Homo sapiens: one gene and its partners. The protein of the gene in region 3 interacts with the protein of the main gene of each other region in a pairwise test. Each region holds a gene or a part of one and is shown on either strand. Other genes may lie near its edges.

Evidence for each region.
Region 1: the proteins of RALBP1 (region 3) and GSE1 interact in binary tests that used the Homo sapiens proteins (3 or more experiments, as listed by UniProt).
Region 2: the proteins of RALBP1 (region 3) and SYCE1 interact in binary tests that used the Homo sapiens proteins (3 or more experiments, as listed by UniProt).

The regions. Positions count from the first base shown.
Region 1 is NC_000016.10:85,651,322-85,654,921, reverse strand, and holds part of GSE1 (genetic suppressor element 1), read right to left. Parts: intron 645-3,600; coding exon 472-644; intron 129-471; coding exon 1-128.
Region 2 is NC_000010.11:133,558,870-133,562,692, reverse strand, and holds part of SYCE1 (synaptonemal complex central element protein 1), read left to right. Parts: intron 1-2,539; coding exon 2,540-2,602; intron 2,603-3,332; coding exon 3,333-3,392; intron 3,393-3,741; coding exon 3,742-3,816; intron 3,817-3,823. UniProt on the Homo sapiens protein: Major component of the transverse central element of synaptonemal complexes (SCS), formed between homologous chromosomes during meiotic prophase. Requires SYCP1 in order to be incorporated into the central element.
Region 3 is NC_000018.10:9,520,436-9,524,258, reverse strand, and holds part of RALBP1 (ralA-binding protein 1), read right to left. Parts: intron 2,100-3,823; coding exon 1,750-2,099; intron 1-1,749. UniProt on the Homo sapiens protein: Multifunctional protein that functions as a downstream effector of RALA and RALB. As a GTPase-activating protein/GAP can inactivate CDC42 and RAC1 by stimulating their GTPase activity.

The DNA of each region.
Region 1 (3,600 bases), on a different chromosome or scaffold from region 3:
GGTCCAGGCCGAGGGGAGGCAGTGAGGACATGCGGAGGTCGTCGGTGGTGTGGTAGGGCCGGAAGCTTCTCAGGTAGTCCTCGGTCACGGTACTGGGGGGCACCACGTGGTGCACGGGCCGCTGGAGGCTGCAGGCGGGGATAGTGGGCAAGGTGGGGACAGGTGAGTGCACACCTGCTCCTGCATGGGGGGACGGCTAAACTCCCTGCATCACCCCTGGCGCTCAGTCGGCACCCAGACTCCTGGCACCCCGAACGAGGACGGGGCTTAAGCAGCGGGGGGAGCGAGCTGCCACTGCCACCTCAGTGTGAAGGGGCACAGACAGGGCTGCAATCCCCAGGGCTCAGCGGCCGACAACCATCTAGCAGGCACAGCCTCATCTGTGCAGACCGCAGGCTGCCTGGGGACCCAGACCCTGAGCACTGTGTCCCCACCTGGCCACCTCACCGAAGTCCCCGCCGACCAACTTACTTGAGTGGCGGGAAGCGGGAATCCTGCACAACTGAGCTGGGGGAGAGGCCGAAGGGGTAGGGGGTGCTGAGCAGGTGCGAGGGGATGGCTGGTCCCCCTGCCTTCTCCTGAGGGAGCGGGGGCTCCACAATGAGGCGTTCCCGACCTCCACTGCTGCTCCTGGAGCCGGCATCCTGCGGGAGGAGAGCGTCCAGTCAGGGCAGGAGCCTGGTATAGGCCACTGACCACAGGACACAGCCAGGTCTCCTGACTCACGGGAAGGCGCTAGATTTAGTTCATGTTCTAGAAACATCCTTTCCCTAAGGCTTTCTACGCAAAACATGGTGCATGTGGTGTGGGAAGCAGAACCGTAAGAAAGGGGATGTGGCTGCGACAGGTCTGGGGTGAAGTGCGTCTCGGGATCCGTCTCCCTCCCTGGGCCTCCTCAGTCCAGCAAAAGAACTAGAACCCCCCAGAAACACAATGTGTGCAGGTGAAGGATGCAGGGTGGCAGGGGCTCCTGCCTCCACCCCTCCTGGTGTGGACATCCGAAGGTCACACCAGACACACACCCGGGGAAGCAGACACCGTTGGCACCCAGCACGCCGTGAAGCGAGTGCCACGATGTAGCCAAGACGTCAACTGCGCCGACAGCTGCCCACCTGGCCGCAGATGTCCTGGCCCTGGTGCCCACGTGGAGGGCAGGGGCAAAGGAAGCTGGCACTGCCCCTGGGCCGAAGGTGCTGGTCTGCCCCCAACCACCTCCTGGGGTGGCCCTGGCCCTGGAGCCCACCAGAACAGGCAGCAGCTGGGCCCTGACTGGCCAGCTGGGGTACCGGCCTTCACACACACGGTGGGGCAGGGAAGGCAACAGCTCGCCTGTCCCAGGCTCCTGGACACAGTGGACCTGGGTGTAGCTGGGAAGGTGGTCCAGAGGACTCAGATGAGGGGTCTTCTCCAGGCACAAAGCAGGAGGAGGCAGTGGCCCAAAGCCCACCTTCCGGGCTGAGGTCCCTGCCAAGTTCAAGGATAGGCCGTGCCACCCCTAGCCACGCAGAGGCTGCCCCGCACACACGCAGGGTCCAGCCCGGAGAAACCAGAGCATGAAAAGGCCTTGCTTGTTCCTGTTATTCGTGTGACTAAGTGGGAGGAGGAGGAGGAGGGGGTAGGAGGAGGAGGAGGGGGTAGGAGGAGGAGGAGGAGGAGGAGGGGGTAGGAGGAGGAGGAGGAGGAGGGGGGAGGAGGAGGAGGAGGGGGAGGGGGGAGGAGGGGGGAGGAGGGGGGCGGAGGGAGCCTCAGGGCGGCCCAGATGGGGGCTGTGCTCTGGACTCTGGATGGCTGCCAACCCAGGCGTCACTCTGTCACTGGGGCAGCCGTTCTCAGCCCCAGCATCTTCCCCATGTGGGGACAGCACTGCCCAGGCCTACCCTGACCTGGGGGTGTCTGAGAGCCATGGCCACGCTGGCCCCTCTGAGCTTCCCAGGGATGCAGAGCCACGGGAACCCGGCCCTTCCTCACGTTCCATCTGGCCATGTCAGGTAACGACTGCTGATCAGCGGGCAGTGCTCCTGAAGAGCACCAGCCCCGCTCTGCCTCCCTGAGCCACGAAATGCCAAACACCCAAAAAACAAGGAGGCCATGGCCGTCTCCCCACAAGATCAGCAGGAATGATGGCCCAGGGGCTCTGAGACCTGCCCCACCGTGGAGAAGCATCTGTCTCCCAGGGGCCGTGCCTGTGTCCCTGACCCGCCAGCCCCTCTTCCTGGGCCCATCCATCTTCATAGCGGCAGACGGTGACCCGGCAGCAGCACATGGCACCCGCGCAGAGGCAGTGCAGGCAGCCCGGGCCGGCGCCTCCCCTCTCTCCACCCTCCAGGAGACAGTCAGCGAGGATTAACTGGAGGAGCCGCCGCCGCCGCCGCCGCCTGGAATCTTCAATGAGAGGCAGCATCTGCTCCCTTCCCGCGGGCTGAGCCCCGGCCCCCCTTCTCTGTAGGGTCCTCCTGGGTTCACGACTTCTGACCTGCCTCTCCAGGGTGCTGGTCTCGAGGGTGGGAGGTACACATGGGCACTGACGCCCTGCGTGGGGCCGGGAACTTCCTATTGAGGAGCCAGCGCCTGGCCTTGGGGTCTCCAGCCGGTGTCAGCAACCGGGGTAGTGGGGGAGTGGCCGAGGGGCCAACCTGACCTTGGGAGACCTGGCCATCCTGTCGTGCCTCGTGCACACATCAATGGCATGTGCCCGTCACGGCACCTGCTCAGAGGACAGCAGAGTTGATGGCACGGCTATGAACGGGCATGCGGGGGACTCACAGGGCAGCAGAGTTGATGGCACAGCTGTGCACGGGCATGTGGGGGACGCACCAGCAGGGTGGGGGCCCGGACATGGCAGGTGTGTTGCCAGGCTGGCCTGCCTACCCCAGCCCCGTGAGGCTATTTCCAGGCTGGGCTTCTAGATCCTGCCTCACGCCCCTACCCTGCCTGGCATAGGGCCAAACATCTGAGGAACGGAGCACGAGGAAGGACACACCCTGTTCCTAGGGTCTGGGATGGACTTAACAAGACGGAGTGGCCCCTGGCCCCCCAGCATCCAAGTAGCACCCCAATGAACACCAGGCCTAAAGCTAGTGGGTCTCTGGATGCCCAGAACAGGGGCCTCGCCTGCTCAGGCACCCGGGGTACCTGGACTCCCCCTCCCAGGCTGGTGGGGAGGCCTCCAGGGCAGGAGGGAGACGACAGCCAGGGGCTTCAATCATCACCCAGCCTTGGGTGGCCAGAGTCAGAAGAGGGCTGGAGGACAGACCTCGACCTGAGGACAGCACCCAGGGTCAAACTACCAACAGCCCAGGCCTGCCGCCCTCCTCCGCATGCTGCCCGCGCCGTGGGCCGGGTCAAACGGCAAAGCACAGGGCCCCAGCCGCCCCGCCACAAGGAGGGGCCTGTCCCCAGCCCAGACACGGCCCTTGAACCCCTTCTCCCCTCAGCCGAGGACAAAGCCCTGCTCGCAGGCCAGATGGCACCTTCCTGGCCTGGCTGAGGACAAACAGGGAGTCCGGGGGGCTGGGGGGCAGCCAGCAGGCGGGGCAGGGGCCCGGCGAGCCAGACCCACATGTCTGTGGCTTCCGTCTGGCTGGCGCCCGGCCAACCCTG
Region 2 (3,823 bases), on a different chromosome or scaffold from region 3:
TACTCTTCCTTAAAAATGCAGGAGTAGCTTCTGTTGCAATAATTAATAAACAAAAAAATCAGGTAACACAATACAAAAGCAAACAGTTTAGGAGCTGACATGAACTTGTGTGTTTACACTCTTGGGGATACACAAGGAAAAACAATTTTCTCCACAAAAGGGAGTCTGGTGCCTTCTCCATTTTCTTTAAGGAACCTCAGGCTATTATAAACTATTTTAGGTCCCTCATGCAGCAGAGCGTTCAAGGGAAAGGAGAGACAGCAGAACTATATGAAGAAAATAGCATTCAGTCAACTGAAAAGAAAAAAAACTTTTGCCCAAAAAACACAAGGTCCTAGGAGAGAGAAAAAAGAAAAATCATGAAGCCCTTTTAAATACACACACACACACACACACACACACACACACACACACACACACACACACACACATTGGATGTTAGCTTTTAATTAAGATGACTTTTAACCATTTGAGTTTCTTTTTAAAAAATTTTTAAGATCTCATCAACATATTTCAGCTAGGACAAATATCTGCTATTTCAGAAGTACCAAGTATCAAACCAGAAAGGTCTTGATTTAGGAACCAAACCCAGGCTGTCATGGAAAAAAGAAGACAGAACCTTAGCTATGGAACTGCAGTTGGGGTGACAATCCTTTCTCTTTCAGTTTGGCCTGGCTAGCAAAAAGGTGGCCTTGTTATGTAAATAAATCCCCTTAAGTAGTCAAAATCAAAAATCTTCCCCCCCTTTTTTCCTTTTGCTGGCTGTTTTTTCTTCCCCCACCACCCCTTTTCTGGTGGGAATTTAGCCACTTCAGAGGCCTTGTTCCACATAATTTGGAACTTTCCTTTGGATTTGATCAAGTCAGAATTGGCCAAACCCAATAGGAAAAGGACCAAAACAACAAAAACAGAAAGAAACAACAACAAAAAAAAATACCAGTTAAGCAAAACAAACAAATGATCACACAACTTGTATGGTTACTGGACACTCTAATGATAAGGAAAAATTAAGACCAGCTGGTTGTTAATTTTACCTTTAGCCAAGACAAACCCCAATTCAGTTACTTACCTAGGGATGGGTCTTAGGCTGAAGACTGCTCTCTATCATCTTAGAAGCAGGAAAAAAACCCTCAAACTTGTCTTCCCTGTTGGGAGCGAGTTCAAACTCCAGAAAGGAACTTTCATGGAAGCAGGAAAACTTGCCTTCCTTGTTGGAAGCAAGAAAAACTCCAAAAAAAGAGTAGAGTTGTTTAGAAAAATAAACTTTGGATCTGGAGCGAATTTTGGGAAATGAGGGATTCCCTGGATGGGGGACTTCCAGAACTCAGCAACTTGTCATATTAGTTTGAACCATAAAGATAGCTCAAGCTGCTAGCAAGCACTGATAGGATATTTGTCAAAGGTCAGGGGCACCTCTACTCAGAATCCCTTTGTGGTTGCCAAAATGTGAAACCCAAAAATCTGAGACAGGTCTCAGTCAATTTAGGAAGTTTATTTTACCAAAGTTAGGGATGCATGCCTGTGACACGGCCTCAGGAGGTCCTGATGACCTGTGCCCAGGGTGGCAGGGTGGTCAGAGCACAGGTTGGTTTTATGCTTTTTAGGGAGACATGAGACACAAATCAACATATGTAAGATGAACATTGGTTCGATCTGGAAAGGTGGGACAACTCAAAGCAATGATGAGACAACTTGAAGCAGGGGGGTTTGCTTCAAGGTCATAAGTAGATAAAAGACAAATGGTTGTATTCTTTTGAGTTTCCGATTAGCCTTTCCAAAGGAGGCAATCAGATATGCATTTATCTGAGTAAGAAGAAGGATGACTGAATTATTTTCAGATATTTATTTTACAAAATCAGATATGCATTTATCTCAGTGAGCAGAGGGATGACTTTGAATTGATTTATTTTCAAAGATTTATTTATAAAAAGATTTATTTTCCTTTCACAATGTTAATGCCATAAATAGTAATTTCTTAGATCTACTAATTTTAGTGTTAAAAATAGGTTCCAATAGTGATTATAAAAAATTAACATGAAATATTTTATGGGGAAATTTCAGGGTTAGTATTGGTTGTATGTAGGAAAGCTTGTTTGTATTTATATATGTTTTTAACCTAACATCTTAATGCATTTTGTTACTAATCCTTATGGTTTTGTAGAAAACTCTCTAAGAACTTCCTAGATTATGTCATCTGCCAGTTACAGTGATTTTTGACTCCTTGCTCCAGTTTTTTATACCCTCATTTTTTTTCTTGAATTATATCAGGAGCTTTGATCTTACTTTGAACAGCCTCAGCAGTGAGAGTGCACCCCTGCCCTCACCCAGAGTTTTACAAAGAGGATATCTGGTATAATTTTACCTTATAGGGAAAAGCTGACCATGGAGGAGCCCGATTCATCTAGTGTACTGTCCACCTCAGGACAAGAAGAAGGGGCACCACTCTGGCTGGAGACCTGCCCTCAGCCTGCCTCAGTCTCAGCCCAGGGGTGGCCTCTCGCCCTGCTTGATTCTGAAATGTTTGGTTTTGTCTCCACAGGGCAGGACACGTCCTCACAGAAAATTGAAGACTTGATGGAAATGGTGCAAAAGCTGCAGAAAGGTCGTGTGTCTCCTTTGTGTGAGGCACAGCCTGAGGTTTGGGGCCAGGCAGATGTGGGTTTAATTTCAGGCCCCACAATGTACGAATTTGGGAAATAATCCTCTTCACCTTCTCTTTCTTTTAAAACTTAATTACTTAAACTAAAAATAGGGCCCCATGTTTCAAAATTAAAGAAGCAAAAGGGTATAGAAGGCAAAATGTTTTCCCAAAACCCTGTCCCAAACCTCTCGCTGGTCACCCATCTGGCTCCACTGCAGTCCATTAGATCCAGAAGTTGCCGCCTTCACTTCCCTTCCTTCCCCCTCACCCGCTACTCCCTCTTTGCTCGCTAGGCTCCTGCCAGCCATGTTCCCACCTCATGATGGGTCTTTGCACTGACTACCTCCCAACCCCACCCAAATTGCTGCAGGGCCTGCCCCCCACCACTTGATTTGGGGCCCTCAGGTCCCTTCCCATATCTCAGGAGCACTTCCCACTCCTTTGCTCTTTAGCCTCCCTTGGCCTACTTCATTTCTCTTGAACACGGTTACCGCAGCCCCATTCGGTATCTTATTGTGTCTGTTCCCAGTCTTGCCCACCCAGAACGTGAGCCCCGTGAGGGCCCCACAGAGCACCTGCTTGCAGGAGGTACTCAATAGATCTGTGTTGCGTGAAAGCAGCAGAGACACAAGGCTGGCAACCGCCCCAACTCTGCCTGCCCTGTCAACTCAACCTCCTTTCCTCCGTGCAGTGGGAAGCCTAGAGCCCCGAGTTGAGGTCCTGATTAACCGGATTAATGAGGTCCAGCAAGGTGAGTTCAGGGGCCTTGGCTGCCAGCTAGGACCAGCTGCATGGTTTGCGGGGCTCAGTGCCAAGTGAGAATGCAGGGTCCCTTGTTCCAAAGTTACTGGTTATTCACAACAGCAACAGCAGAGCCTTAAATTAAGTACAGGGCATTTCAGCATGCGACTGCCATAGTTACATGCCCATGATCCTGGCCCTGCTATCAGCAGAGCCTGGCAAGGAGAGCTGGAAGCCTCGTTTCCTACTCTATAAAATCTAGGCCACTATAGATTTACCTGAAGGCAAATGAGAAATGTCACTGTTGGGAAGAGAATAGAGGCTGCACTCACACAATGTTTTTCTGCTCTTTGGTGAAGCAAAAAAGAAAGCCAATAAAGACCTAGGAGAGGCCCGGACCATCTGTGAGGCCCTGCAGAAGGAACTGGACTCGCGTAAGAG
Region 3 (3,823 bases):
GTGGTGCTTTTTTGAGATGGAGCCTCGCTCTGTAGCCCAGGCTAGAGTGCAGTGGCACAATCTCAGCTCACTGCAACCTCCACCTCACGGGTTCAAGCGATTTTCCTGCCTCAGCCTCCCCGGTAAGCTGGGATTACAGGCGTGTGCCACCATACCTGGCTGATTTTTTTGTATTTTCAGTAGAGACGGAGTTTCACCATGTTGGCCAGGCTGGGCTCGAACTGCTGACCTCAAATGATCTACCCACCTCAGCCTCCCAAAGTGCTGCGATTACAGGCGTGAGCCACCATGCCCGGCTAAAACATCTTATATTCTTTATTTTCAACTTACTTTGACATATTTTAACAGACGCAATGGAATGAATGAGGACCATGAGGGAAGTGGGAGCACCACAGTAGTAAAGCTGGGTTGAGGTTGAAAGCCCTCACTCCAGAAACAAATACCTGGACACAGCCAGCATTTAAGTATGGATGTTCATATGCTAGGAGGCCAGGGCATTAGGTTGGCTGAAAAGCTACTACAAGAAATTATTTCCTACCTAAAACTTACTCTTACAACACACTTGACTCTTCTATGATACAACCATCTCTATTATATTATAGTAATATTAAGTATCAATGTAATATTTACCAGATCCTGAAATCCTAATGATCAAACTAAAATCTGAGAAACATTTTGCTTTCAAAGCGTAATCAATGAGTAACAGAAGAATCTTTATTTTTTAGAGATAAAATCTTGCTCTGTCACCCAGAGAGGAGTACAGTGGCATGATCATAGCTCACTGCTGGGCTCAAGCAATCCTCCTACCTCAGCCTCCGAAGTAACTGGGACTACACATACATGCTACCACACCCAGCTAATTTTTAATTTTTATGTAGAGACAGGGTCTTGCTATGTTGCCTAGGCTGAACTCCTGGCCTCTCGCTATCCTCCTGCCACAGCCTCCTAAAGTGCTCGCATTAAAGGTGTGAGCCACCGCGCCTGACTGAAACGCTCTTTAGTAAATGAAAACACTCTCTAATAACAGTGACAGTGATTTATGGTGACTCAGAATACTGGCCAAAAAGAGGGCTTAAGATAATAAATATAACCTATCATCTCCCTTTTTATTGGCCTGAGTAAAATATCATTAACTGCAATTAAAAGAAAACATATACTCTATGACAGCACCAACTGAGCAGCAATAAAGGAAAGCCAAGTATGTATGTCGTAAAAAGATACCAATTAACACACTACCCAATTCCCTGAAGTTCCTTTTCAGATTCAGAGCCTATAACATGTCTCTCTAGGATCCATCCTTATGAATGAAATCCTCAGGCTAAATCTTTGACCAAACAATTAATGACAGGTCCCTTTGTGCCTGAGTTTGATGTGTGTCTGTGATCTAACGAAGCAATAATGCTATTGATTAAATAACTGGGATCTCTAAAATTCTACACACGAACTCTATAACTGTAGATGCCATGGGCTCCTCCTCCCCTAATGAAGGATCCTTGTCATCAGGTCTTGTTTATAAACCCACATCAAAGACTGTACCGCATTCAAATTACATCACTACAAGCTAAAGGGCAAGTATGTTATCTTATACATTGACACTGTCCAAATTATGAAAGGAAAAGACCCGTATTCAAGCTAATCCATTACCTATCTCCTCAAGTTCACTGCTTTACATGTGACTCAGCAATAGAAAATTACCCCAGTTCCCCAATGTCAGTACCAGAGGGTATATGTGTAGAGAAGACCATGTACCTGCACAGTTGGGCTGAGCACTATAGAAATGTTCTGTATATTCATTTTTGTTTCCAGTTCCTTTGCAATGACATGGTCCATGTGCACAATGAGCCAAGAAATCAGAAGATAGTTACATTCTGGCAGTTCTTTGAGTAAACGCTGGAATTCCTGCACTTTCTCAGTCTCCGTGGTCCTCCCACAAGCCTCTTCAAATCTGGGCATAAGCTCTTTGGTAAGCAAATTCTCTGGAAGGTCTCGCAAATACTGCTTCAGCAAACTGGCTACAGTGTTAGGCTCATAGTCTTCCAAGTTTGTAGACTCCTCCCGGTCATAGGCTGCTTTTAGCTCATCCACCTTTGATTTAATTCCTTAAAACATTCAAATTCAGAAGAGAGAAGATACTGAGAAAAGAAAATCAAACACACAAGTTTTCTTTACCATTATCCCCACCCTTGCTAAGGAGATGAGAACAGCAACCTGACCAATAACGAACCTCTTGTTATGAAATATTTATCTGCACAAAGGTCGTACAGTTCCTCTGTAAACACTAACATGTAAGACTACACTTGGCTGGGCGCAGTGGCTCACACCCATAATCCCAGCACTTTGGAAGGCTGAGGCGGGCAGATAGCTTGAGCCCAGGAATTCGAGACTAGCTGGACAACATGGTCAAAACCTATCTCTACAAAAAATACAAAAATTAGCTGGGCATGGTGGCGTGCGCCTGTGGTCCAAGTTCTTTGGGAGGCTGAGTTGGGAGGATCACTTGATCCTGGGAGGTTGAGTCTGCAGTGAGCCATAATTGCACCACTGGACTCCAGCCTGGGCAACAGAGTAAGACACTGTCTCAAAAAATAAAAAAAATAATTAAAAACAGGCCAGGCACCATGGATCACACCTGTAATCCCAGCACTTTGGGAGGCCAAGGCAGGAGGATTATTTGAGGTCAGGAGTCCAACACCAGCCTGGCTAACATGGCAAAAACCTGTCTCTACTAAAAATACAAAAATTAGCCAGGCGTGGTGGTGTGCGCCTGTAATCCCAGCTACTTGGGAGGCTGAGGCAGGAGAATCACTTGAACCTGGGAGGCAGAGGTTGCAGTGAGCCGAGATCACACCACTGCACTTCAGCTTGGGTGACAGAGCAAGACTCCATCTAAAAACAAAAAACAAAAAACAAACCCAAAAAACTAACTTCAAAAGTGAATTTAACCAAAAGTTAAATGATAATTGAAAAGCTCAACAGTCAGAAGTCAAAGCAACCATGGATATATTAAGCAAATATGCCCATTAATTCAGGAATTTGTTTTTAATGTAAAAACATTACACAGTGGCGCACACCTGTAATCCCAGTACTTTGGGAGGCCGAGGTAGGTGGATCACCTGAGGTAGGGAGTTCAAGACCAGCCTGGCCAACATGGTGAAACCCTGTCTCTACTAAAAATACAAAAATTAGCTGGGCATTGTGGCGGGTGCCTGTACTCCCAGCTACTCAGGAGGCTGAGGCAGGAGAATCGCTTGAACCCAGGAGGTGGAGGTTGCAGTGAGCCGAGGTCACACTACTGTATTCCAGCCTGGGTGAAAAGTGAAACTCTGTCTCAAAAAAATAAAAAAAAAGGTAAAAAGACAAAAATTAAACTACAATCCAAGTGTAAGTCTGGCTCTACACAGGCAGCCAGCTGCTTTTTCTAACAAGTCACAAGACTGACCACAAAAAAATGTGGCTTGGTGTACCTAAGTATGTTCCAAAAAGTTGTGGGTAAATTACTTTTTTATGTGTAAATATTGTACTGTAATTGCAAAGGGTGAATTAGCTACCCAAACAAACACTTTGAAAATTATTCTCCATTAAATCATCCCCATCTAATTTCTATTTTAAAGTTTGGATTATTTTAAGTATAACCTTAATCTGAACAGAGCTGGAACAAAAAAAATAAAGTATGGGTTTCTAAAATCGTTTTGCTTATTGAACAAAAGGAAACTAAAGCAAATGATTTGCAAACATTACATAAGATTTTAAGTCTTTAGTACAATCTGCATTAAGTGACGTAATTTAGTGGCGATTGCTCAGAAGAACACAAAGTAGTTTTTTG